Homo sapiens: one gene and its partners. The protein of the gene in region 3 interacts with the protein of the main gene of each other region in a pairwise test. Each region holds a gene or a part of one and is shown on either strand. Other genes may lie near its edges.

Evidence for each region.
Region 1: the proteins of PTGES3L-AARSD1 (region 3) and TRIM45 interact in binary tests that used the Homo sapiens proteins (3 or more experiments, as listed by UniProt).
Region 2: the proteins of PTGES3L-AARSD1 (region 3) and ZNF185 interact in binary tests that used the Homo sapiens proteins (3 or more experiments, as listed by UniProt).
Region 4: the proteins of PTGES3L-AARSD1 (region 3) and ARID4B interact in binary tests that used the Homo sapiens proteins (3 or more experiments, as listed by UniProt).

The regions. Positions count from the first base shown.
Region 1 is NC_000001.11:117,118,750-117,126,311, forward strand, and holds the start of TRIM45 (E3 ubiquitin-protein ligase TRIM45), read right to left. Parts: upstream 3,001-7,562; 5' UTR 2,453-3,000; coding exon 1,965-2,452; intron 19-1,964; coding exon 1-18. UniProt on the Homo sapiens protein: E3 ubiquitin-protein ligase that plays a role in the regulation of inflammatory response.
Region 2 is NC_000023.11:152,971,067-152,974,011, forward strand, and holds the end of ZNF185 (zinc finger protein 185), read left to right. Parts: intron 1-207; 3' UTR 208-2,408; downstream 2,409-2,945. UniProt on the Homo sapiens protein: May be involved in the regulation of cellular proliferation and/or differentiation.
Region 3 is NC_000017.11:42,977,519-42,984,442, forward strand, and holds the start of PTGES3L-AARSD1 (PTGES3L-AARSD1 protein), read right to left. Parts: upstream 3,011-6,924; 5' UTR 2,665-3,010; coding exon 2,528-2,664; intron 2,495-2,527; exon of another isoform or gene 2,387-2,494; intron 2,146-2,386; coding exon 2,032-2,145; intron 1,927-2,031; coding exon 1,860-1,926; intron 1,751-1,859; coding exon 1,652-1,750; intron 1-1,651. Other genes in the region: putative protein PTGES3L, read right to left, coding at 1,652-1,750, 1,860-1,926, 2,032-2,145, 2,528-2,535; RUNDC1 (RUN domain-containing protein 1), read left to right, coding at 3,059-3,556. UniProt on the Homo sapiens protein: Functions in trans to edit the amino acid moiety from incorrectly charged tRNA(Ala).
Region 4 is NC_000001.11:235,220,164-235,227,200, reverse strand, and holds part of ARID4B (AT-rich interactive domain-containing protein 4B), read left to right. Parts: intron 1-1,638; exon of another isoform or gene 1,639-1,688; coding exon of another isoform or gene 1,689-1,706; intron 1,707-2,425; coding exon 2,426-2,498; intron 2,499-3,940; coding exon 3,941-4,035; intron 4,036-5,538; coding exon 5,539-5,636; intron 5,637-6,655; coding exon 6,656-6,899; intron 6,900-7,037. UniProt on the Homo sapiens protein: Acts as a transcriptional repressor. May function in the assembly and/or enzymatic activity of the Sin3A corepressor complex or in mediating interactions between the complex and other regulatory complexes.

The DNA of each region.
Region 1 (7,562 bases), on a different chromosome or scaffold from region 3:
GTCGTTTTCTTCTGCCGCCTAGGGGCAAACAGAATCAGTAACAGGAAATAAGGGGATAATTCTGTTGGGAATAGTTGGGCAGAGAGATTTTAGGAGCACAGGATCTGAAGTTAAACAAACCTGATTTCAATTCCTTGCTCTAATCTCTAATTGCATGAACCTCTCTGATTCCAGTTTCTCATCTGTACAGTGGGGACAATACCTACCTGAAAGAGCTGTTGTATAGAATAACGTGTGAACAGACTAGGGCTCTGGCTGGCTACATGCCTATGCAGAAGGTTGCAAGACTATGACTGCATGCTAGAACTTTCCCAAAGAGTTTAGACAAGAGTCACAGTCGGCTTCCTAAGGTAAGCTAGCAGTGAGGGCATGGCAGAAAACCAGCATCAAGAAACAGAAACCATGCCAGATAACACAGCAATAAAGTCCAAGCAATTAAAAAGCAGACACCAAGTCTCATCTAGCTTGCATCTAAGATTTTGGTGAAGCATTTCTGTTGACCTGTATCACCCAAATCAGCAGGCTAGAATTTTTTTCAAGAGACATCGTCAACATCATTAGAAAGCGTGAAACCGGCCGGGCGCGGTGGCTCACGCCTGTAACCCCAGCATTTTGGGAGGCTGAGGTGGGCGGATCAACTGAGGTCAGGAGTTTGAGACCAGCCTGGCCAACATGGTGAAACCCTGTCTCTACTAAAAATACAAAAAATTAGCCAGGCGTGGTGGCATGTGCCTGTAATCCCAGCTACTGGGGAGGCTGAGGCAGGAGAATCGCTTGAACCTAGGAGGTGGAGGTTGCAGTGAGTGGAGATTGTGTTATTGCACTCCAGCCTGGGCGACTAGAGCCAGACTCCATCTCAGAAAAAAAAAAAAAGAGAAAAGAAAGTGTGAAACCAATGGTTAGTAGAATCAAAGCTCTCTTTCTAATTCCTTTCCTATAGTAGCCCTCTAGAGATGTAGGGAAATCCTTAGGAAAACATGGTGACTGTTCAGAGTTCCTCCATTAGCATTGTATCAATTTGAAGCTTATATGCCTATTCTGGCACCAGAAGAGTGGCTGCAGAGAAAATAGGGTTAGCTGGTTTGGCTGGCAGCAAGACAGTCGCAGGGACTATCACATAATTACAAGTTAAAAATAGAGTGAAGTCTACAAACTTGTTCTGTTAGTGTAGCCAGAAAACAAATGGAAGTAGAACCCGAAACCTATTTTAGGCTAATCCTAAAACTGTGGTCATTTTATATTCTGGTGTCCTAGGATGGGGTAAGGTAAGAGTACGAAGGGACAAAAGTGATCCATCTGACAAACTATTCACCAAATGCCATAAAACACATAGTCTGCACCCCAATTAACACCTACCAGCCCACCTCACCAAGCTCCAGAGTAACTCTAAGGTACACAAAGCAAAAGCTGAGGTCCGGCCAATCATCATCACCTATTCTAGGAGCACAGCATGGGTTACTGGAATGTAGTCAAAATGATCTGGATTTAATACTCAGTTCTGTTACACACTTACCAACTGTAGGACCTTGGCAAATCACATAATATTGCTGAGCTTGTTTCCCCAATTAATAAATGGGGGCGAAAACAGGGCCTGCTTTTCTGTAAGAGTTGCAAGATCGAAGGAGATCAAGAACAGGATCTATGCTGTTATATTCATTCTCCTGTTTCTCCAGCACCCAGTACAATTATTCACTACACGAATGACTGAAGGAAACTGTAGCTGCACTTTGTAAATTGAAAGGGTTTATTGCTATTGCTATATTAGGCTATATATTAGGTACTATATTAGGCTAACCGGGTTAACTGTTGTACTGGAGTATTTGCTATTGCATTGTTATATTGCTCTTTGACCTTCCACGGTATTTGAGAAGGCTTTCCTTTTCATCTGCTCACCGAGGGATTTGTCTTGACACCTCTTTGTAATCTGCTCTTAAGCTACACCTGATGGAGTGTCCCATCTTTACCTATGAGCCTGGCAGCAGAAGTGGCAGAGGTTGGCTTTGCAGGTCTGACACCTCTTCTCTACTTCCCTGTCGTTGCACAGGTCACACACCAGGCCCTGGCCTTCCCCACGTAGGCTCTCCAGCATCACATCATTCACGGCCAGGTGGTCTATGGTTAAAGCCTTCACTCCACCCATGGGCAGGTCCACCTGAGCATCACATACAGGACAAAGGATGCCGATCTGCGACTGCAGACTTCGTGGCTTGAGTTCCTGGAATATTGACCCCTCAGAGCTTGTGTCAGAGTCTCCCCCTCGGATGTCCACTACTGAGAAGGGCTCCAGCTGCTCCAGACACGTGGTGCAAACTGTATGCAAACAAGGCAAGAGCCTGGGGGCTTTGAAAAGCCCCAAGCACAGGGGGCAGTGAGTCTTGCCTGAGTTCCCAAGTGCAGTCCCACTAGTGAGTTTGCTTACAAAGCCCAGCAGCGGTTTTCTGTTTTCTGACATACTCCTCACGTTTGTGACCAATATTAGAAAGGGCCCTGGGCAGTTCTACGATTTAGTAGCAGGTGATTAAGCCCACCCAAAGAGAAAGTCTCCAGAACTTGAACAGAGACCATGGGGACTCCCTCGCTGACAAATAAAAGGGCAGACGGGAAGACGAGGCGTCCTCGAAGGAATCACCCACAGATCTACTCAGGAGGGCCCCCTCCTTTCCACTGCATCCCACACCAGACACGCCCACGCCCTCCTCTGCCCCGCAAGTCCTCCCCGGATGCGCTTCCAGGTCTAGCTCTCCAGCTAGTCCTGCTGCCAACAAAGTCACCCCTGCACCTCTCGCTCCCTCCACTGCCACCCCCCTCCCGCCGCCCGCCCCACTGCGCGCCACACGCGACAAGCGCCGACCCCACCCGCGCACGATGAGGTAGGGGCCCTCTTGCTCCTTCCCTCTGCGAAAGGCGCGCGCCGGGTGAGGGAATTGCAAGCCGCCGGCGGGCTTCTCGGTGTCCACCGCCTCTCCCGCGCCTCGGCCCGGGACGCCCGCGGGCTCTGGCCCCTCCTCACACCAATCCCAGCCCGGTCTACTCCGGCGAGTCCAATCACCGTCCGAGAGCGGCGGCCCTCGCCGCTCCGGGCCCCGCCGCCCTCCAGAGTGACGCCACTAAGCATCCAATAAGTTTTGGAAATTCCACATCTTCGCCAGTCCACTCACGCGGGGGGCGGGACCTGACAAGGCCGTGGGCGGGGCGGCCGAAGGGCTTAGAGTGCGGCGGGAGGAAAAGGCCAAGGCTCGGAGCGAGCGGCATAGTGTAGTCAGCGTCACCGTTTCACAGGGACTGTCCCTCTCTCTGTGGTGACCAGAGAGGCCTCAGGACCTCTTAAAAAGCCACGCTGATTTGGCGCCGGGACGGCCTTCTTTCTGCCCTCGGACTCGTCCCACGAACGCAGACTGGGTTCTCCCATTGGTGGATGGCACTGTCAGTTGGCTCTGCGCTGGGAGTGGGAGACGTTTTTCGGGCTCCCGAGGTCTCGGCCGCTCGGGGGCGCCAGACGTTTCTCCTCCACGCGGGTTTGAGGCTGCGAGGCTCCCCTCTGTCCTCAGGCGCTTACTGTAGCTCACAGGTCCCTCAGGCCTAGCGTGCTGGGTACAAGCACTCCCGCGGCTCCCCGACTTTGGGTATTTTTCGGGGGTGAGGGCATCTCAGGCTCGCGTTACGGGGACCGGTTCGGGAGACCGTGGAGCCGAGGTGTCGAATGGAGGGCTTACTTCGGCCGGGCCAGGGAGCGCCACCCTCCTTGTCGGGCTCGGGAAGGCTTTGTTTTCCGGTCCGGGGGGAGTGCAGATGACCTAAGGAGTTGAATGTCACCCGGGATTCCACAGTCCTGTGTAACAGAAACGAGCTGAGCGAGTTGGACCCGCTGTTTTTATCAGTCAATCACGGAGGGCTCCTGCCTGGTCACAGTGAGACAATGGACGGTGGCAATGAGGGACAAGCCCTTTGTGGGCTTAAAACTAATTGGGAAGATGAACACGTCCGACCCCTTTAACTTTATAATTACACGGCCACCTTCTCTGGCCTTACCAGGCGTCTCCTGATTCTCCAAAATTCCAAAAATGGAAACAGCTGCTCCTTTCCCCTCCACCTGTTGTTATCTCCAGTTGCGTCAGCTTGTCTACTGGGCCCTCACTGCTTTCTTTGTTCATGACCTTCCCTACTTAATTTGTACCCAGTGGGCGACTGTTTCACTTGATTCCTTCATTATCTGTTTCATGCTATAGGCATAGTGTCTGGAGCCTAAGCTTTTAAAAGTATGGAATCTGAAAAAAAGTTAACCCCAAAATATGAAAAAAAAAAAAAAAACCATTATAAAATATAAAAATGAAATGTTTGGCCATTTCCAAAATATAACACGCCAATGAGTCAAATGCCACCTTTATATAAAATGTGCAAGTAATTTCCAAATGTTAAGCATATCTCCAAAGATTTTTAAATAGTCCTTACCTAGATTTTTTTCAGCCTCTTGTCCTTCTTGCATCTACTCTCAAAATCGGCATTCGCCTCTCCAGTAGGCTGGAGGAAGTCACAAAAACTGTGTGGACTTGGGTTTGCTATATATTCTTGCTTTGAACTTCACCTTTACCCTCCCTGCTGCTTGGCTGTGCTTTACTTCATCTCTTGTTCATACTGTATCACATTTCTTGTGGTAGTAGTTTCAAGCTTCTCTTGTTTCAGAAGTACTTCATAATTTACACGTGCAATATCTCATTTAGCAGTATCTCATTTAACCTTTAACAATATTGTAAGGAAATGGCCTCAAAGAGGTCTTGCCAGGTCTTGGATGGCCAGCCCAAGTTAACATATCTGGAACTTGAACACAACCTTATGATGCCATATCTAAGATTATATTCGGGCTACCTCTACCTTTCCCTTTTTTTTTTTTTCTTTTTTTGAGATTGAGTTTTGCTCTTGTTGCCTAGGCCGGAATGCAATGGCAGGATCTCGGCACACTGCAACCTCCACCTCCAGGGTTCAAGCGATTCTCCTGCCTCAGCCTCCCAGGTAGCTGGAATTACAGGCATGCACCACCACACCTGGCTAATTTTTTGTATTTTTAGTAGAGACTGGATTTCACCATGTTGGGCAGGCTCCTCTCGAACTCCTGACCTCAGGTGATCCACCCGCCTCGGCCTCCCAAAGCGCTGGGATTACAGGCGTGAGCCACCGCGCCTGGCCACCTCTACCTTTCCTTTCTCAGTTTATTAAGCATCAAATCCCTCACACATGCTGCAGCTAATTCCCTTCCATTGATGAGAAAAACAAGGTTGTCTGAAGAACTGCCTCGCCTTTCTACTTAAAAAATCCATGATTCCTCACACCTCCTCTCTTACCTCTCCTGACTGCCATTCTTTAGTGCCAAGATTAGTTCCTCAAGATTTTTGTTTTTTATCCCAACCTCTCCTGCTTCCTCAAAACCTTATTCCTATGTTTCAGTCAGTTTTTCTGCCAAGAGTTCTGATGAAGTCCTGAAAGGGGAAGCAAATCGTCTTTTGATCTAGCTCCCCTTCAACGTATTAATAGTGGTGGTTCTCGCCCCTATATTTCTCAAAAGGGTGGTCTCACTGTCTGCTTTCATCATCTTTTTATAACCATCACCACCGATTTATTCCTCCCCTCTTTCCTATTGAGACTTTCTTGTAGATCATGAGTGACCATATTGCTGGCCTTTTCTCAATAGGCAATCTCTTTAGTATTTACCATTTTTTGTACTTCCTCATCCTTAAAACTTGCCTCCTCCTTGACTTCTGAAATACTCTACTCTCCTAACCTTCTGTCTCTTGGGCTGCTTCTCACACCCTCCATCCTCACTAGTTCCCCTTCCTCCACTTTATCTCCTACCTTTGCGTCTACATTTCCTCACGTGGATGATTCCCAGACCAACGCTTCCAGTACTGATGTCTCCCCTGAGCTTTTGACATAGATTTCTAAATCTGCACTCAAATATGTTCCTATCACCAAGTCCCACATAGCTTAAACTTCACTGAACTTCTTTGCTCACTGAACTGCACTCTCTGAATTTTCCTATTTGATTCTCTCCAGAGTATCATCATTCTCCTTTCCCTCCTGCATGAAACCTTATAGTGCTGCTGGCCTCCTTTCTCTTGTTCCATATCCAGGCAGACACCGATTTCTTTCCATCCCCACTGCCAACACCTCACTGCATACACTTTTTAAGATGCTATAGCTCTTTATCACCCTCACCTTAAGTATTACAATAGTGTCTGAATTATCCCTGCCCTTTATTTTTTTTGATCTACACAGTTCTTCCAAATTAATTGTAAAAACATATAAAAACATGATACAAGTCAGTCTTCATTCTAAAACTTTCAGTAGCTCCCCATTTTTGTAGGATAATATCTGCATTCTTCAATAGATTCATAAAACTGCTTGTTTAGTTATTCCCTAAACATTGCCAAGCACGTTTCTTGGTGTTTGCCAAGTTGTCGGCAACATTCTCCTTCCTTTATTATTTAAACCTACCCTTCCTTCTATGAAAGCCCTACTTCACACTACCCCCTTGAAGCTTTCTCTTATTTCAGGGCTCCAGATTCAAGCCTAATGCTGTTTTGCCTATATTATTCACTTTGCAGTTTGTGCTACCTTGTGGTATTGTTTTTATTTATTATGTGTGTATATATATGCATGTGTATATATTTACATATGTGTATATATTTACACACTATATATATCACATACATACATGTATACTCTCTCTGTTAAGATGGAAAATCTTGGCAACCTAGACAGTAGTCATTTAATAAAGACCTGTTATTGATGAAGGAGAGAATGGTGATCTCAAGTAATGGGAGGACAAACAGGACCACCTTCAACCAAGAGTTTTATGGATAGTGCAGACCATAAGTGATATGGGGTGACATCACAGGACGAGAGAGGATTTGTTAAGGATGCTCCTTTCTCAGAATTAGTTCGGTGTCTTCTTCCATGCTCACACATTGCTTCATCTGTCTGGGGAAGCAATAGTCATGGGATGAGAGGAACAGGACTGATGAAAGTGACCAGCGTTCATGAAAGTGTCTACAAGACTTTCAGCCCACACCTGTTTGCCCAAGACAGGGAAGATATTGAAGGCAAGAAAGCCAGGAAGGGAGAATGACCCATCAGGAAATCAGGCAAGGCTGGTTTGGGCACTATGCTTGATCATTACCATCAGACATTGAGTGGATATATGGAAAGGGACCAGAGAGTTCTGTCAGACTTATCTTTCACCATTCCATCTGTCTCTGTCACCATCCTTCCTTCTTTCCTTCAAAGGAAGGAGACTCCTTTCTCCTGGGACCTGTGCTCTGAAGTTCAGCCCTGCCTGCCTCCTCTCTCTTCTGTCTTTATCTTCTTTCTGGTGGATCTTTCTTTCCGCTCATGTCCATGCTTCAGTCTCTCCTTCTACCCTATGCCCCTCTCTAGCTCCCAATCCCTCTCTACTTCTTTATAGCCAAGCTGCTTGACAAGAATAGTCTACATTTGCATCTCTTCTTCCCTTGCATTTTACTCCTAAACACAGCGCAATCTGGCATTTGCTCTCACCATTCCTCTGAACT
Region 2 (2,945 bases), on a different chromosome or scaffold from region 3:
TTTATCACGGTGTCTGAGCACAGAGCAGAATATATCCCTTGAAGGCAGTAGCAACCAGGCTTTCCACTAGCTCCATGCTGATGGTCTTCTCTCCAGAAGACACACCTTGAGCTAGGTGGTAACTCCTGATGACTGGAGCAGTCACCCACCCTGAGGGCCTCTAGCTGATGTGTTTCCAGTCTCATGGCTACTTCTGTTTTCTTTTAGCGACCCCCCACCGCCAGGCTGATCAGAAGCTGATGACTCGTGGACAAATTTGGCTGTCCCCAGTTTTGCCCCAAGTTGCTGTCTCCCCTTCCCTCACCTCCTCCCTCCCTGTTTGATTTCTTCATGCTTTTGCCCTTCTCAAGTTGAAGTTGCATACATCCAATATCGTATCTTAATGATGCTATGATAATTGCTTGTGTGTGTAGCTTCTTGTAGCTTAGAAAGCGCTTTATGCCCATGATGTCATTTCAGGCTCAACCAAAGAGGATCAAACAGGAATTCCATCTTGGCTTCCCTAAGACAGATTGGCTTTCTAATGAGTTTAAGTGGGCAGAAGTGTAGGGTTCAGTGTGTCCTGACTCCCTTGAGGCTTATAATGGGCCAAGTTGAAGACTGTTGATGATCCCTGGTGGGTAAATTGCAGACATCAAATGCTAGGGATTGGCATAGGCTAGTGTTTAGCTTGTCTATTTGCCATATCTATTTTTTTTAAATTTCCATACACTTGTAAAAGTAGTTAGTTGCTTTTGATTGAGTTATATAGCAGTTTTTCATTTGGTCTTCCACTCACCTTTCACTATATTTGAGTGTTCCCTTACAGGTATGTTGGCATGTGTTGGAAAATTTACACAATTAGGTTTAAATTCAGTAGGATGTGATTTTAGGATGCTACTGATCAAAGTGATATCTGTGTCTGTTGGAATCTTGATAGCTGATTAATTTGCCCTCAATTCTGCTCCCTGAACTTCACACATAAATCTTCCCAAGTGGGTTTTAGGGTGTATAGATCCCAGCAGGATTAAGGAGGTGGAAAAGCAGCTAACATTTCTTGAGGCTCTACCACATAGCAGGCACTGTCACAGAGTAATGGCATTAATCCCCATAATAATCCTGTGAAGGTGATATTCTCATCCCATCTTAGACATGAGGATATTGGAACTCAGAGAGGTGGCTATTGCATTGCGCAGAACGCTACAGAGCCCATGCTCTTCCCAGAGCAGCACCCACAAAAGCAAGCATTGATTTTGTGCTCAGTGTGTGCCAAGCACTGTGCAGAGGGTACACAGTTCCTGCCAGGTTAACACCCTCCCTTCAGGCCTCCCAAAGGCATAGGCTTGCAAAGAGCAGAAGGTGTGAAATCACACTCTTCCTCTGGGCATCCTGGATCCCTGAATTATCCCCCCCCCCATGAAGTACTTCAAGGGCCAAGCTGCCCCTTTCCCTCCTCTCCGCCCATGAAAATGCCTCCAAACTGAGATGCTTTCAGCTGAGAACAGATTTGACTCACAGACATTACCAAAGAGGAGCTTGTGAATCCAGGAAAAGCTCCAGGGGGCTAGCTGATCTGAGCAGAGAGCTTTCAGTGACCCATTTTCCTGTCTAGACTCTGCCTTAAGCTAGTGGCAACTGCTGGGGCCCCAGGTACTTGGGACATGGAAACTCGTTGGATGGCTGGGCAGATGTAAGCCTGTCCATGCAGTCAGCCGATCCTCTGCTCAGGTTCAGCTGGACTCTGCCATCTGTGGGCCCAGCATCACTCTGTAAGTTCCTTGAAAGGAAGAACAACCTTAGAGTATTTCTGATACAAAATGAGGGCCTCTGCTCTTGATTTAATTATAAAATGTCTACGTCTTTCTCCAGTTTCTGAGCCCTATGCACATTGGCTTGTGGGCTTGTTCTTCCTGCCAAATGATCAGAGAGGAACATTCCATTTATTTGTAGTGGATTTCCTCTGGAGGGCATGTACCCACACTAAATACCAACTGCTCTTCCTCAGCTGTAGTCCCCAACATCAGACTTGGCACGTGGTGGACACTAACACACAGGCACTCAATGAATGAGTGAAGGAAATAAAAGTCACCCCGTTGGTGAGAGGTGCTATCCCTGAGTCTCAGTGCAGGACCAGTGGATGAAAGGCAAGGTAAAGAGGCCCAAGATAGGCTGGCTTCCCCCGTTCAAGGTATAGTCTGCCTTTAAGGGAGTTTTAGAACCAACATGCAAGACATTGAAAGAAATCTTGCAAGAGCCATTATTGACTTAGATCCAAAACAGCCTCTCTCATGTCTAAAAAGGCACAGAATTTTGCAGATCTGAGGAAGAGGGATGCATTACCTTTTTGCTTCTTTTCAATTGCTTAGTGTTTCTAATCATACTTAATCCACACTAATGTGCGCAATTATAATAAATGGTAAGATATCACATGTGTCAGTGTTAAAGTTTTCTTTTGAAGTGTAATAACTTGGTGTATTCAGCTGTGTGATTTCTTTATTCCTATTGCCTGAAGCCATTCTCTGTACAAAAGTAAACAAGTACTTAATAGCAAGCTCTAGACACTGGGCATGCACAGGAACTGTGGAATTCTAGACACATCAAATCTTAATGAAGAATATTGTATTGTGGCGGCAGAGAGCGGGGGCGGTCCATCCTTCTCATGATTACCACTGCAGACAGACAGCCACCTAGTCATTAGTGCCCACTTCCAGTGACCAGGAGCTCAGTTCCTTACAAGCCCCTGCTGTCTGTGGTTTTAGAAGATGCATTCTTCAGTTGAGTTAAAGTCCATTTCTGTATGTCACCCACTGGTGGTCTTTAATCCCTCCGCTAGATGCCAGCTCTTAAAATAGATGAAAATACTTCTCAGATTCTGTCTTGGTCAACTCTTCTCACATTTAAACACCCCTGGTCCCTCTAACTCTTCCTTGACAGTAATTCTGAATACACATCTCTCAAAGGCCCTC
Region 3 (6,924 bases):
GCTTGAACCCAGGAGGCGGAGGTTGCAGTGAGCCGAGATGGCGCCATTGCACTCCAGCCTGGGCAACAAGAGAGAAACTCTGTCTCAAAAAAAAAAAAAAGAAAAGAAGAAAAAGAAAGAAAGAGAGAGAGGGGGAGGGAGGAAGGGAGGGAGAGAGAGAGAGAGAAAGAAAGAAAAGAAAGAAAGAAAGAAAGAAAAGAAAGAATAAGACTCATCAATTAATTTCTACAGTGGAAACTACTTCTGGGACTGGAATATAGAAAACAAGAATTGGCAGAGGCCGGGTGCAGTGGCTCACAGCTGTAATCCCAGCACTTTAGGAGGCCGATGCAGGTGGATCACCTGTGGTCAGGAGTTTGAGACCAGCCTGGCCAACATGTTGAAACACTGTCTCTACTAAAAATACAAAATTAGCTGGGTGTGGTGGCACATGCCTGTAATCACAGCTACTCGGGAGACTGAGGCAGGAGAATCGCTTGAATCTGGGAGGCGGAGGTGTAGTGAGCTGCGATCATGCCATTGCACTCCAGCCTGGGCAACAAGAGCGAAACTCCGAATCAAAAAAAAAAAAAAAAAAAAAAACAGAAAGAAAAAAGAAAAAGAAATGGCTGGGCACATTGGCTCACGCCTGTAATCCTAGCAGTTTGGGAGGCTGAGGCGGGTAGACCACCTGAGGTCAGGAATTCAAGACCAGCCTGACCAATATGGTGAAACCCCGTCTCTACTAAAAATACAAAAATTAGCCAGGCGTGGGGGCACAAGCCAGTAATCCCAGCTACTCAGGAGGCTGAGGAAGGAGAATCGCTTGAACCCGGGAAGTGGATGTTGCAGTGGGCCAAGATCGCGCCACTGCACTCCAGCCTGTGCTACGGGAGTGAGAATCCATCTCACACAAACACACACACAAAAAGAATCAAAGGTTTTGATTGTGAGTTGCAGTAAAGGGAAAGACCATGTTCATAGCAGTGCCAATATCTGAAGTGGAGTCTTACACATTTCATCACCTACAACGAAAGTAAGTTAACTGGGAGAGATTACCAAGAGAGTAAAAAGAGACTCAGGACAAATAGCTAATGTATGCAGGACTTAAAACCTGCATGACGGGTTGATAGATGCAGCAAACCACCATGGCACACGTATACCTATGTAACAAACCTGCATGTTCTGCACATGTATCCCAGAACTTTAAGTTAAAAAATAAGCCAGGCGCGGTGGCTCACGCCTGTAATCCCAGCACTTTGGGAGGCCGAGGCGGGCAGATCACCTGAAGTCGGGAGTTCGAGACCAGCCTGAGCAACAAGGAGAAACCCCATCTCTACTAAAAATACAAAATTAGCTGGGCGTGGTGGTGCATGCCTGTAATCCCAGCTACCCAGGAGGCTGAGGCAGGAGAATTGCTTGAACCCGGGAGGCGGAGGCCATGGTGAGCTGAGATCACGCCACTGCACTCCAGCCTGGGCAACAAGAGTGAAACTCCGTCTCAAAATAAATAAATAAATAAAAATAAAAAGAGAGACTAATACAGTTGGAAAAAAAAGATTAGGCAGGACTTGTTGAGTGATTGAATATTGGCTGGAAAGGAGGCAAGGACAATCCCAGCTGTAACCTGGGTACATGGAGAGAAGAAGCAGGCCACTTTCCACACACCCACCTTGATATCCTCCTTGGTAAGCCGCGGCCAGGCCACCTTTTCCTTCCATTTTCTCACAAAACAAGTAATAGAGCGGGAAGAGCGCTTATCCTGGGAGTCCTGCCAGATAGAGAGCCTCATTCTTAGGGTCTGGGGTTTAGAATTAATCTCCAGTTTCCCTGGGCAGCCCGGTTTCCATCCAAACCTTACTGTCCCATTTCACCCTTACCTTGGAGTTCACTTTGGCATAGAACTCAATCTCATTGTACAACTCCACTCCATCGGCATTCTTGCAGCTGAGGAGACAATGAAGCTGAGGAGATGCGGAATACTCCGTGTGGGGACATTAGGAAAGGGGTAGATTCCTGGGAAGCCAGGCCCTCGGACGGCAGGGCCACTACCTGAACACAATGCGGTGATCCTCAATAAGCACGTGGACATCGGTGCTGTCCTCAACACAAAACTCCATGAACACATACCTGGGCCTGTCGTACCACAAGGTCCGGGCGTGCTGCCTGAAGAGAAGTTGAGGTGTGGCTTCATAGGGGTGGGAGAGGGAAGACTGAGGTCATTTGGGAAGGGACTACCCAGGGACCTTTGATGCCACAGTTTTTTCAAAGTGGAGCTAAATGAGACAGAAGGGGTGAAAGGGAAGGGAATGACAGGAGTGGGTGGGTGTGGTGAATGTGAACCTGGGAAGAATAGAACGTGCAAGACTAGGAAACTAGGAGGTCAGGGAGAACATTCAGGTCACACCTTCCCTCACCCCACAGTTACAGAGACCAGGGGTCCGGGGCTCCCGTGGGGCCTCACAGAACCTGGAGCGCCCAGAAGACTTGGAGCAGGGAATCTCCAGGGAAAAGGGCCAGGGGGAGCACCGGAGCCGGAAACACTCACCGTGCCATTGCGGCTCCCGCTCCAGGGTGGCATTTAGAGTTCCAGGCAGGGGCCGCTATCTTTAGATCCTGGGGACGCCCCCAGCAGCTGCCTCTCCTTATATGGTCGGGAGAGCAGTTGAGAGGAAGAGAGAACATGACCTGGCAGCCAAGGGATCTGCACTCTGGAGATACTCTGGGACAGCTTCATCCTTGCAGCCCTTCACCGTGGGGTCTTCAGAAATGCATAGACTATGAAGAGACAACCCATCTGCTGGAACCAGGGCAAAGGCTGCCCTAGACGCTACACACAGGGAATGACTTTTCCCCGGTATCATTCACCTGTTTCTCCGACGCTTACTGCTCAGTGTCTGATTCACAATAGGCGCTCAATAAAACATTATTGTCCTGAATTAAATTCCCGGGGAAGGCGCGCCCTCGGGGACTTGGGTACTTCAGGCCCCGCCCACCACTCCCCTGGGGTTCCAGGCCACCGCGCCGTTGCCATGGCAGCAGGGGGGCGCGGCTGACGTGCGGTGGTGTTTCCGGGAAGATGGCGGCTGTCGAAGCGGCTGCAGAGCCGGTAACGGTGGTGGCGGCTGTTGGGCCAAAGGCGAAAGACGAAGAGGAGGAGGAAGAGGAGCCGCTGCCACCGTGCGAGGCGGTGCGCTGGGCCCCAGTGGGGGCGGTGGCGGAGGCCCGGCCTGGGGCAACCGCGTTTTTAGAAGAGGCGACGGCCGAGGAGCCTGGCGCGGCCCCGGGCTCCCCGCCGGATTCGCCGGGCCGGACGCTGCGGCGGCTGCGGGCAGAGCGGCGGCGGCTGGACTCGGCGCTGCTGGCGCTGTCCTCGCACTTCGCGCAGGTGCAGTTCCGCCTGCGCCAGGTGGTGCGCGGGGCGCCGGCGGAGCAGCAGCGCCTTCTGCGGGAGCTCGAAGACTTCGCCTTCCGCGGCTGCCCTCACGTCCTAGGTTACGAAGGGCCCGGCGACCCCGCCAGCGATGAGGGCGATGGGCTGCCAGGGGACCGGCCATGGTTGCGGGGCGAGGACCAGGTGAGTGGCTGGAGCCGGGCCGCGAGGAATATGGGAATAGTGGGGTCGTGTGGGTGGCGATCCAGACCCGGATGATGGTGCATGCGGGGAGAAGCCTCCCCGACTCGGTCGGTGAGTACGTGTGTCGGAGACCAGGGGACTGGAGTGCGGGGCCGGCTGAAGGGCAAGAGGACAGAGGCCTGGGAACCTGAGGGTGAGCGGTGTGCACGGAGGATGTGGAGAGATGTCGGTGCGTGATGACGTGAGTGGTAGAGGAGCGGTGAGCGAAGTGAGTCGTTGAGAGGGCAGCAGAGCAGCCAAGAGCAGTGCTGCGCCCACTCACCTTTCCCTCACGTATCTCAGTCTTGAACACTTTGGCTGCTAGAGGACCCCGACTCTGGGGATTGGGAAAATTGGCAAAGGAAAGGAAAGTGAGTTGGAATCCGTGGAAATTTAGGTTAACTCCCTGTCCCTGCTTTCCTGAAATCTAGGCAGTCTTTACACTTCTTTGGGTGGGAGTTTGGATTAACAGCAGGGTCTCTTAGTAACTGAAATAAACACAACTCTTGATTAGATAAATTTCCTAATGTTGGAATTTTTCCTTTTTAAGAGACGGGAGGGTCTTGGTATGTTGCCCAGGCTGGTCTCGAACTCCTGGTCTCAAGCCATCCTCCCGCCTCAGCCTCAGGACTACAGGCGTGTGCCACCGTGCAGGCTATAATGTTGAAATTTTTAAACTCTTCCTCCATCCTGCTTAATCATTAGGCATTCTGAATGAGGTCCTCTGATAACTGACAAGATCGATTCAGTGTGCCTACCCCAGAAGTAGTGAAACTATGTATAAGACACCAGGTAAACGTTTCCTTACAAGCTTTGCATCTCTGGAAGTGCACAAAGTGCTGGCTTTATTGGAAGTGTTGAGGTACACTGCCTTTTCACTTTTTTTTTTTGAGACAGAGTCTCACTCTGTCACCTAGGCCAGACTGCATTGGCGCAATTTCTGCTTACTGCAACCTCTGCCTCCTGGGCTCAAGCAATCCTCCTGCCTCAGCTTCCCCAGTATCTGGGACTACAGGTGTGTGCCACCACACCCAGTTAATTTTGTTTATTTTTTGTTGAGGCGGGGTTTCACCACATTGCCCAGGCTGGTCTCGAACTCCTGAGCTCAAGCGATCTGCCCTCCTCAGCCTACCAAAGTGCTGGGATTAGAGAAGTGAGCCACCATGCCCCATCCCTTTTCACCATTTTATTCTTCAAACTACAATCTACATGTGGCTTTCTTCCCACTTACATTGGTTTTAGCCAAGAAGATTTATCAAGCAGATAATGATTTGTTTATTTTAGTCTGAACTGTTTCCAGTGCAATCCTGTGTTTACTGTTCCACCCTTCTCCACATACCTGCAACTCCTTACACAAGGAGCAGCCACCTCAAACTGTCAGATTTAAGGGCTAGAAAGGGGTGGACAGCACCAAAGGTTCTACATGATAGGAAACTCTGTTGTTCATTTTCACCTTTAGAAACAGTAGGCCAACCCCATTTTCCATGATGTGATTATGACACATTGCATGCCTGTAGCAACATTTCATGTACCCCATAAATATATACACATACTATGTACCCATAAAAATTAAAAACTAGCCCAGCGCAGTGGCTCACGCCTGTAATCCTAGCACTTTGGGAGGCCAAGGCGGGCGGATCACCTGAGGTTGGGAGTTCGAGACCAGCCTGACCAACATGATGAAACCCCGTCTCTACTAAAAATACAAAAAAAAAAAAAAAAAACTAGCCAGACATGGTGGCACATTCCTGTAATCCCAGCTACTCGGGAGGCTGAGGCAGGAGAATCGCTTGAACCTGGGAGGCAGAGGTTGCGGTGAGCCAAGATCGTGCCATCGCACCCCAGCCTGGGGCAACAAGAGTGAAACTCTGTCTCAAAAAAAAACACACAAAAAATTAAAAACTGAAAAAAAAAAAAAGACTGTGTGCAGTGGCTCATGACTGTAATCCCAACACTTGGGGAGGCGAAGGCTGGAGGAGGATCACTTGAGCCCAGGAGTTGGAGGCTGCAGAGAGCTATGATCATACCGCTGCACTCCAGCCTGAGTAACAGAGCAAGACCCTGTCTCAAAAAAAAAAGGCAAAAGAAACATTGTACCACCTTAAAAAAAAAAAAAAAAAGTAGTGCTCAATCCACCTACAAGTTGTAATCTTGTATTTATACATTGAATACATTGACAGGTGAACAGGTAGGACCAGAGTAGGGAATATCATTGAACTGAATGATTTACTTCTTACCACTTACCTTTTTTTTTCTTTTTCCTTTTTTTTTTTTTTTTTTTTGAGACAGAGTCTCACTCTGTTGCCAGGCTAGAGTGCACTGGCATGATCAGGACTCACTGCAGCCTTGACTCCCAGGCTCAGTAGATCCTCCTACCTCAGCCTCTCGAGTAACTGGGACCACAGGCGAGCATCACCATGCTCAGCTAGTTTTTGTATTTGTAGAGATGAGGTTTCACCATATTGCCCAGGCTGGTCTTGAACTCCTGGGCTCAAGCAAGCCACCCACCTTGGCCACCCAAAGTGCTGGATTACAGGCATGAACCACTGTACCCCGCCAATTTTTTTTTTTTTCTTGAGACAGAGTCTCACTCTGTCGCCCAGGCTGGAATGCAGTGGCACCATCTTGGCTCACAGCAACCTCCGCCTCCTGGGTTCAAGCGATTCTCCTGCCTCAGCTTCCCAAGTAGCTGGGACTACAGGTGCCCGTCACCACGCCTGGCTAATTTTTGTATTTTTAGTAGAGATGGGGTTTTGCCATGTCGGCCAGGCTGGTCTCGAACTCCTGGCCTCGAACGCCTGACCTCATAATCTGTCCGACTCGGCCTCCCAAAGTGCTGGGATTATAGGTGTGAGCCACCGTGCCCGGCCCTAAATTTTTATTTTCCACTCTGTTGCCCAGGCTGGTGTGCAGCAGCATGATCACAACTCACTGCATCCTCAACCTCCTGGGCTCAATCCATCCTCCCAGCTCAGCCTCCCAAGTAGCTGGGACCACAGGCGCACACTACCATGACTAGCTAATTAAAAAATATATTTTTTCTGTAGAGGTGGGGCTCTCCCTATGTTGCTCAGCTGGTCTCTGACTCCTGGGCTCAAGCCACCCTCCCACCTTAGCCTCCCTAAGTGCTGGGATTACAGGCATGAGCCACTGCACCTGGCCCCCAGTTTTTTTTTTTTTTTTTTGAGACAGAGTCTGGCCCTGTCACCCAGGCTGGAGTGCAGTAGCATGATCTCAGCTCACTGCAACCTCCACCTCCTAGGTTCAAGCTGTTCTGCTGCCTCAGCCTCCCTAGTAGCTGGGACTGCAGGCATGTGCCACTATCCCCG
Region 4 (7,037 bases), on a different chromosome or scaffold from region 3:
GCTATAGCAATGTCAAATTACATATGTTGCTGCTACTCACCTTTGCATATGCTAGTACCTCTGTAGGCACCACCTTTTCCTCCCCTCCTTCCTTAGTCAGCATGGTACATTCCTGTTCAATTTTCAGAACCCTACTTAGGTGCCATCTCTCTAAAGAGAAACCTGTGAACCATCACCTCCCTCACCTCAGGAAAGCACCAGTTCATTTGCTAGTCTAAACTACTACTGCTCCTGGCAGGCACGGTGGGTCATGCCTGTAATCCCAGCACTTTGGGAAGCTGACGCTAGCGGATCACCTGAGGTCAGGAGTTTGAGACCAGTCTGGCCAACATGGTGAAACCCCGTCTGTACTAAAAATACAAAAATTAGCTGGGTGTGGCTGGGCGCGGTGGCTCACGCCTGTAATCCCAGCACTTTGGGAGGCCAAGGCAGGCAGATCACCTGAGGTCAGGAGATCGAGACCATCCTGGCTAACATGGTGAAACCCTGTCTCTACTAAAAACACCAAAAAATTAGCCGGGCATGGTGGTGGACGCCTGTAGTCCCAGCTACTCAGGAGGCTGAGGCAGGAGAATGGTGTCAACCCGGGAGGCGGAGCTTGCAGTGAGCCGAGATCACGCCACTGCACTCCAGCCTGGGTGACAGAGCCAGACTCCATCTAAAAAAAAAAAAATTAGCTGGGCGTGGTGGCAGGTGCCTGTTATCCCAGCTACTAGGGAGGCTGAGGCAGCAGGATTGCTTGAACCCAGGAAGCGGAGGTTGCAGTGAGCCGAGATGACACCACTGCACTCCAGCCTGGGCGACAGAGCAAGACTCTGTCTCAAAAACAAGACAAAACAAAAAAAGAATTACTACTGCTCCTTATACATATTTTTGTCATTTATATTTATTGTCTATTTTTTCTTCCCCACGAATTTGTAAGTTCCTTAAAGTTAGGAATGCTGTCTTACTCGTATTCATACTTAAAGTGTCTGTCATAGTGTGTAAAATATAACAGATGATAAATAGCTACCAAACCTTTTGGTGCTTAGTGTTTTCACAAGTGTTTTTGTAAAAGCAAATCTGTAGTGTAGTGTAAACATTTTCTTGAGTTAAAAGCTTACCTTAAATGTTTTTGGAATAGGAAAAATTGTGCTGTTTATTAAAGTTAAATATTGTACCATGGGAACATTTAAGATAACATCTAGAAAATAGATGTCCTTAGATTTGTATTTGATCACCTTACCAAAACCTGAATGTATGGAGTGTGTTTAAATTGAGAAATACAGATTCATCATTAGCAAATTAATGGTTGTCATTTATTTTTCTCTGCCCAATTAGAAAACCTAATAGTTGATCAACATAGGCTTTAAAAAAAAAATTACCTTTCTTTGTTGTACTAGCTTTTAAATTAAAAAGACAATCTCGCTAAAGCAGTGGCATTAGGCACATGATTTTCCAAATTGAAAAATGCTATGTTTTTATTTATTTAGATTACCAGTTGAATATCCTAACTTTTACTGTTACAAATCTGTATATTTAAGCCAGAGTAACTGTAAAGCCTAGCTGTATATTTGGAATCATTTTCTCTGCAGTTACTCCTAATCATGTTCTGTAACAGTAGGCTCCATAGCCTATTTTTTCTTTTATTTGATTCAGCACCTGGCATAGTACCTACACTTACAGGTGCTCAAGTGTTTGTTGAATGGATGAAAGTCATTGAATTGGTGAGTTCCTCAATCTTAACCTACTACCCTGCTCCTTGCAGGTTGCTTCAGGACCAGCTCCCTGCTGCCACAGCCCTTGGCCACAGCAGCAAGAAGCTAGTCCTTCCCTTGTAATTGATAAATTGGGGAACTATTTTATTACTTGAAGATTTCCCTAAGTCTGAATCTTCAGGTATTGTAGATCAAATTTGTTCCCCACTTTACTGATTATGTAAGCTTGAAGTATATACAGTGGGGCTGCATAAAATGAAGGATACTTGCAGTCAGCTAATGGGACCCATACTTTTATAGTACCTTGAGGAGCAATAATAGAATTAGTTTTGATGTTTAACTCTGATCCAGTTTCGCATAAGTTGAGAGTAGGTATTCTTGAACCTGTGATCCTGATTTGAAAAATAGCTCTCTCATATGGTAAAAAAAACAAAACAAAACAAAACAAAACCACGAACAGTCTTGCTAGTCCCTTTTCTCATATGGGAATTTTTACTGTGGGGATTCTAACTATTGGGATACTTTTTAAGGCATATTCCTCTATAAAACATAAAATGTCTAGACTTACCTGGTTTTGAACAGCTTAGTGTTAAAAGAGTAACTTTGATTACGTAAAAAGCCTTTGAAGTATTTTAATGAACACTAGTCTTTGCTATTGGTAAGAAATCTGCTTGTTTTATTAAAATGCTTAATTGAAGAAAATAATATTCTTCTGTGATTAAAATTAGGAAGAAATAGAACCATTTCCAGAAGAAAGGGAGAACTTTCTTCAGCAATTGTACAAATTTATGGAAGATAGAGGTGAGTATTTTTTATTTATCATTAACGTGGTAAGTTTTGGACAGATAATTAGTATCTTAAAAATAAGAATAGAATTTTGTTTACTGAACTTTATGTCATCAGTAATTATGGCTGTCTTTTTGACTCTGATATCACCAGCACCTAGCATAGCGCCTGTCACGTAACAAGTAGAATGAGGAATTTGATAGCATTTTGACAGATATTGTGGCTATGGACACATAAATGCACTTATTACCCTGTCCTGCCAATCCCTTTACCTATCCATGGGTCCCTAAAGAACAGTAGCAAAATGGGAATTAAGCCAGAAATAGATAAAGAAGTGTGACAAAGTCTCAAAAGTGAGCCTTGGCTCAGCTTATTTAATCTGCCAGAAGCTGCTAAGGCCACGGAAGGATTGAAGGAAGAAGAATAACTTAGGGTAATGAACTAATCCTTCCGTAACCTCAACACTGTTATTCTCTAGCTTATCTTCTTGGTCAGAGTCTACTTTCTTCTTTTCTGGGAAGATGCTTGTAAGGGAGTAAGGAGAGGCTTTCTAGCTGGAAGGGAAGGGCAAAATGAATGATTAGTGTTTGGAAACACCACAATACTCTGGGAATTGAACGTTTTCTAAATCCCTGATTGTAATGCTGATGAGTAGAAACTGACTCTGTTTGTCATGTTTAGTTTTCATAAATGATAACAACGCCTAACACAATATAAGTATATTTTCTTTTTCAATATAAAATGTCTTTGATTCTTGTATTATTTCTTTACATGAATGGAGGGTTGGCCTAAGAAGTATGCTGTTTCATAGGCTCTTGTATAAGATAAATGAAAAAGCAAAGAAAATGAATAAAATCTAATACTAGAAAAGAATGAAAAAATATGATTAAGCCAGTCATATATTTTGTAGAAATGGCCATATGAGGCATTGTACCCCTACCCTGTTACCTCCTCTACCACTTTCTCATGGTTTGTTTGATTTAGCATCCTTGCCTTGCGTTTTCTTGTGTTAGAATGAAAAAAAAAAAAAAATGTAGCTTTACTATAGAATCATTATTTAGAGTAGTAGTAAATTGGTAAAATACAAAGAAAATGCCATAAAAGTAACTCTTATTGGGAAGCAGTTATCTAGTATTTCTTCCCTCAGCAGAGGGAAGAAAGTAGAATGAAAATAAAAGGTTTCAAGAATCTGGTTATGGTTTTTAAAATTTAAAAAATTTTAAAGTGGCCATGGGCTTATTTATGTGTAGATACCATGTCTTTGATTAACAAGATAATTTCTCATATATATATATACATATATATGTATATATACACACACATATATATACGTGTATATATATATATACGTGTATATATATATAAAATACTATAAATACTTGTATTATTTGAATCTTTTGAAATTTTAAATTAAAAATGTAGTGTGGATCTAATATAGTTTGTGTTTTCTGTAACAGGTACACCTATTAACAAACGACCTGTACTTGGATATCGAAATTTGAATCTCTTTAAGTTATTCAGACTTGTACACAAACTTGGAGGATTTGATAATGTGAGTGTTGTAGTCAAACTGAAACATCTTTTTCATGTAACATGTTTTCTCAGGTATCTGCCATCTCTGAAATTGTTTTTCTAAACAACAAAACAAAGTTTTTCAGTAAAAACCTAAGAAGAAGATAAAGTGGAAAGTACAGCTAGCCTCCTCAGACAAAATTTAAATTTTAAAGATTTTTTAGGCCAGGCATGGTGGCTCATGCCTGCAACCCCAACACTTTGGGAGGCTGAGGCGGGTAGATCACTTTAGGCCAGGAGTTCAAGAACAGCCTGGCCAACATAGCAAAACCCCATCTCTACAAAGAATACAAAAATCAGCCAGACGTGGTGACGCACGCTTGTAATCCCAGCTACATGGCAGGCTGAGGCACGAGAATCGCTTGAACCCAGGAGACAGAGATTACAGTGAACCAAGATTGCACCGCTGGACTGCATTCCAGCCTGCGTGACAGAATGAGACTCTGTCTCAAAAAAAAAAAAAAAAAGATTTTTTTTCATATCAGCTTTCTGATTACTGTTAAATTGGTCAATCTTTCATAAACCTTCTTTTTTTATCTGAGTCACAGCACAGCCATATTGGTGGAAATCCTTCCTGTGTCTCTTTTTCATTAGACAGTATGCTCCTTAAGAGCAGGGATCTGTCTTAATATTCTGTATATTCTTAATCCCTTTCAGAATATAAAGGGATTAAAGCAGGAAATGTTTGTTGAACTGATCTGAAGAAATTATTTTAAGGTTGACGTGATGTACGATACTTATCCAATTGAGAATATTCTATGGAATAAAATACTTTACAAATTTCTGCAGAACTGCATTTATTAGCCTGTATATTTTATGCGAAATAATAAATCCTTTAAAAATGTTTGTCTCCATTTCTTTGTTAAAAATTTTGATTTAAGAGCCTGAATATTTTTCCATTTTCCATAACTGGGTTTATTTAAAAGTCAAATGGGGCCAGTTATGGTGACTCATGCCTGTAATCTCAGCACTTTGGGAGGCTAAGGCCAGGGGATTGCTGGAGCCCAGGACTTTGAGACCCGCCTGGGCAACATGGTGAGACTCCATCTCCACAAAAAAAATTTTTTAATTAGCCAGGTGTGGTGGTGTGCATCTATAGTCCCAGCTACTTGGGTTGTTGAGTCAGGAAGATCCCTTGAGCCCGGAAGTTCAGGGCTGCAGTGAGCTGTGTTTGTGCCACTGTTGCTGCACTTTAGCCTAGGCAATAGAATAAGATCCTGTCTCCAAAAAAAAAAAAAAAAAAAAAAAAAAAAAAAAAATAGTCAAATGACTTAATATTTCAACATTTATAATTTTCTGATATTTGTTAGAGTACTAAAACCTTTATTTTTAAACCAAATTTAGAATTTATCAAGTTTTTAAAAATTCTTTTGAGTCTAGGACCAATAAATATAAAAATATACTCATATATACTGTGTCTATCAAAATGTTATTATATTAACACCTTTTAATTTGAGAGTTTTTGTTTCACTTTGTCCATTAGATTGAAAGTGGAGCTGTTTGGAAACAAGTCTACCAAGATCTTGGAATCCCTGTCTTAAATTCAGCTGCAGGATACAATGTTAAATGTGCTTATAAAAAGTAAGTTAGTATAATTGATATGATTATCTTCAGTATTTTTACCTAGAAAGCAGGATGAAATTTACCTTATAACTGAGGTTAATTATTTCTTTAAAGAAATCAGAACATTTTACTAGAGTAGTCATTCTATGATAGTATTTTCTAAAGTGTATTCTATGATACTAGATCTATGAGAAATTCTGTGAAGAAAGTTTTTGTGGCTAAGTACATTTGTCAAGTACTTCATAGAGGTTAAAAAGCTAATATTCTGAAGTCAAGTAAATCCACATTTGAATCCTAGTTCTGCCAATTATTAACTGTTTATGCCCTAGGGCCAGTTATTTATTCTCCTAAGCCTCAGTTTCTTCATTTGTAAAATGGAATGCTTGGCCAGGCACGGTGGCTCATGCCTGTAACTTCAGCACTTTGGGAGGCCGAGGCGGGCAGATCACTTGAGGTCAGGAGTTCAAGACCAGCCTGGCCAGCATGGCGAAACCTTGTCTCCACTAAAAATACAAAAATTACCTGAGCATAGTGGCTAACGCCTGTAGTCCCAGCTACTCAGGAGGCTGAGGCAGGAGAATTGCTTGAACCCAGGAGGCGGAGGTTATAGTGAGCTGAGATTGCGCCACTGCACTTCAGCCTGGGCAACAGAGTAAGGCTGTCTCAAAAAAACAAAAAAAAACAAAAAAAAACAAAAAAAGGATGCTGCTGTGTGCCCCAGGGTTACTGTAGTGACTAAATGAGATTTACTAAGGAGTCCAGCCTCACACATAAGAAATGTGCAAAAAATAGATGCTATTACTAATACTTTTAATAGCTGTTATTGTTATGACTCTGAGCACAGTGTTTTAAATGAATTTTTTGACAAAATTTTTTTTTTGCATTGAAAAGATTAGAAAGAACTAGAATAAATTAGAATGTTAATATGGCTCAATATCTGAGAGTTTAGACAAAAGAAATGAATACACATTAAAAATAACTCTATAGTTATATTTTGAAATGTTTTCACCAAATGTAATTTCTCTTCATGTTTCCAGATACTTATATGGTTTTGAGGAGTACTGTAGATCAGCCAACATTGAATTTCAGATGGCATTGCCAGAGAAAGTTGTTAACAAGCAATGTAAGGAGTGTGAAAATGTAAAAGAAATAAAAGTTAAGGAGGAAAATGAAACAGAGATCAAAGAAATAAAGATGGAGGAGGAGAGGAATATAATACCAAGAGAAGAAAAGCCTATTGAGGATGAAATTGAAAGAAAAGAAAATATTAAGCCCTCTCTGGTAAATCAGATATTGTTAATTGTCTTTTGCTTTCTTTGGTATATTTTCCATATCCTCTATAAAGTTCCAAAATCAATATATTGTATAATATTATTCTTTATTATTTGTTTATTTTCTTCATTAAGTGCTACTTTTGTA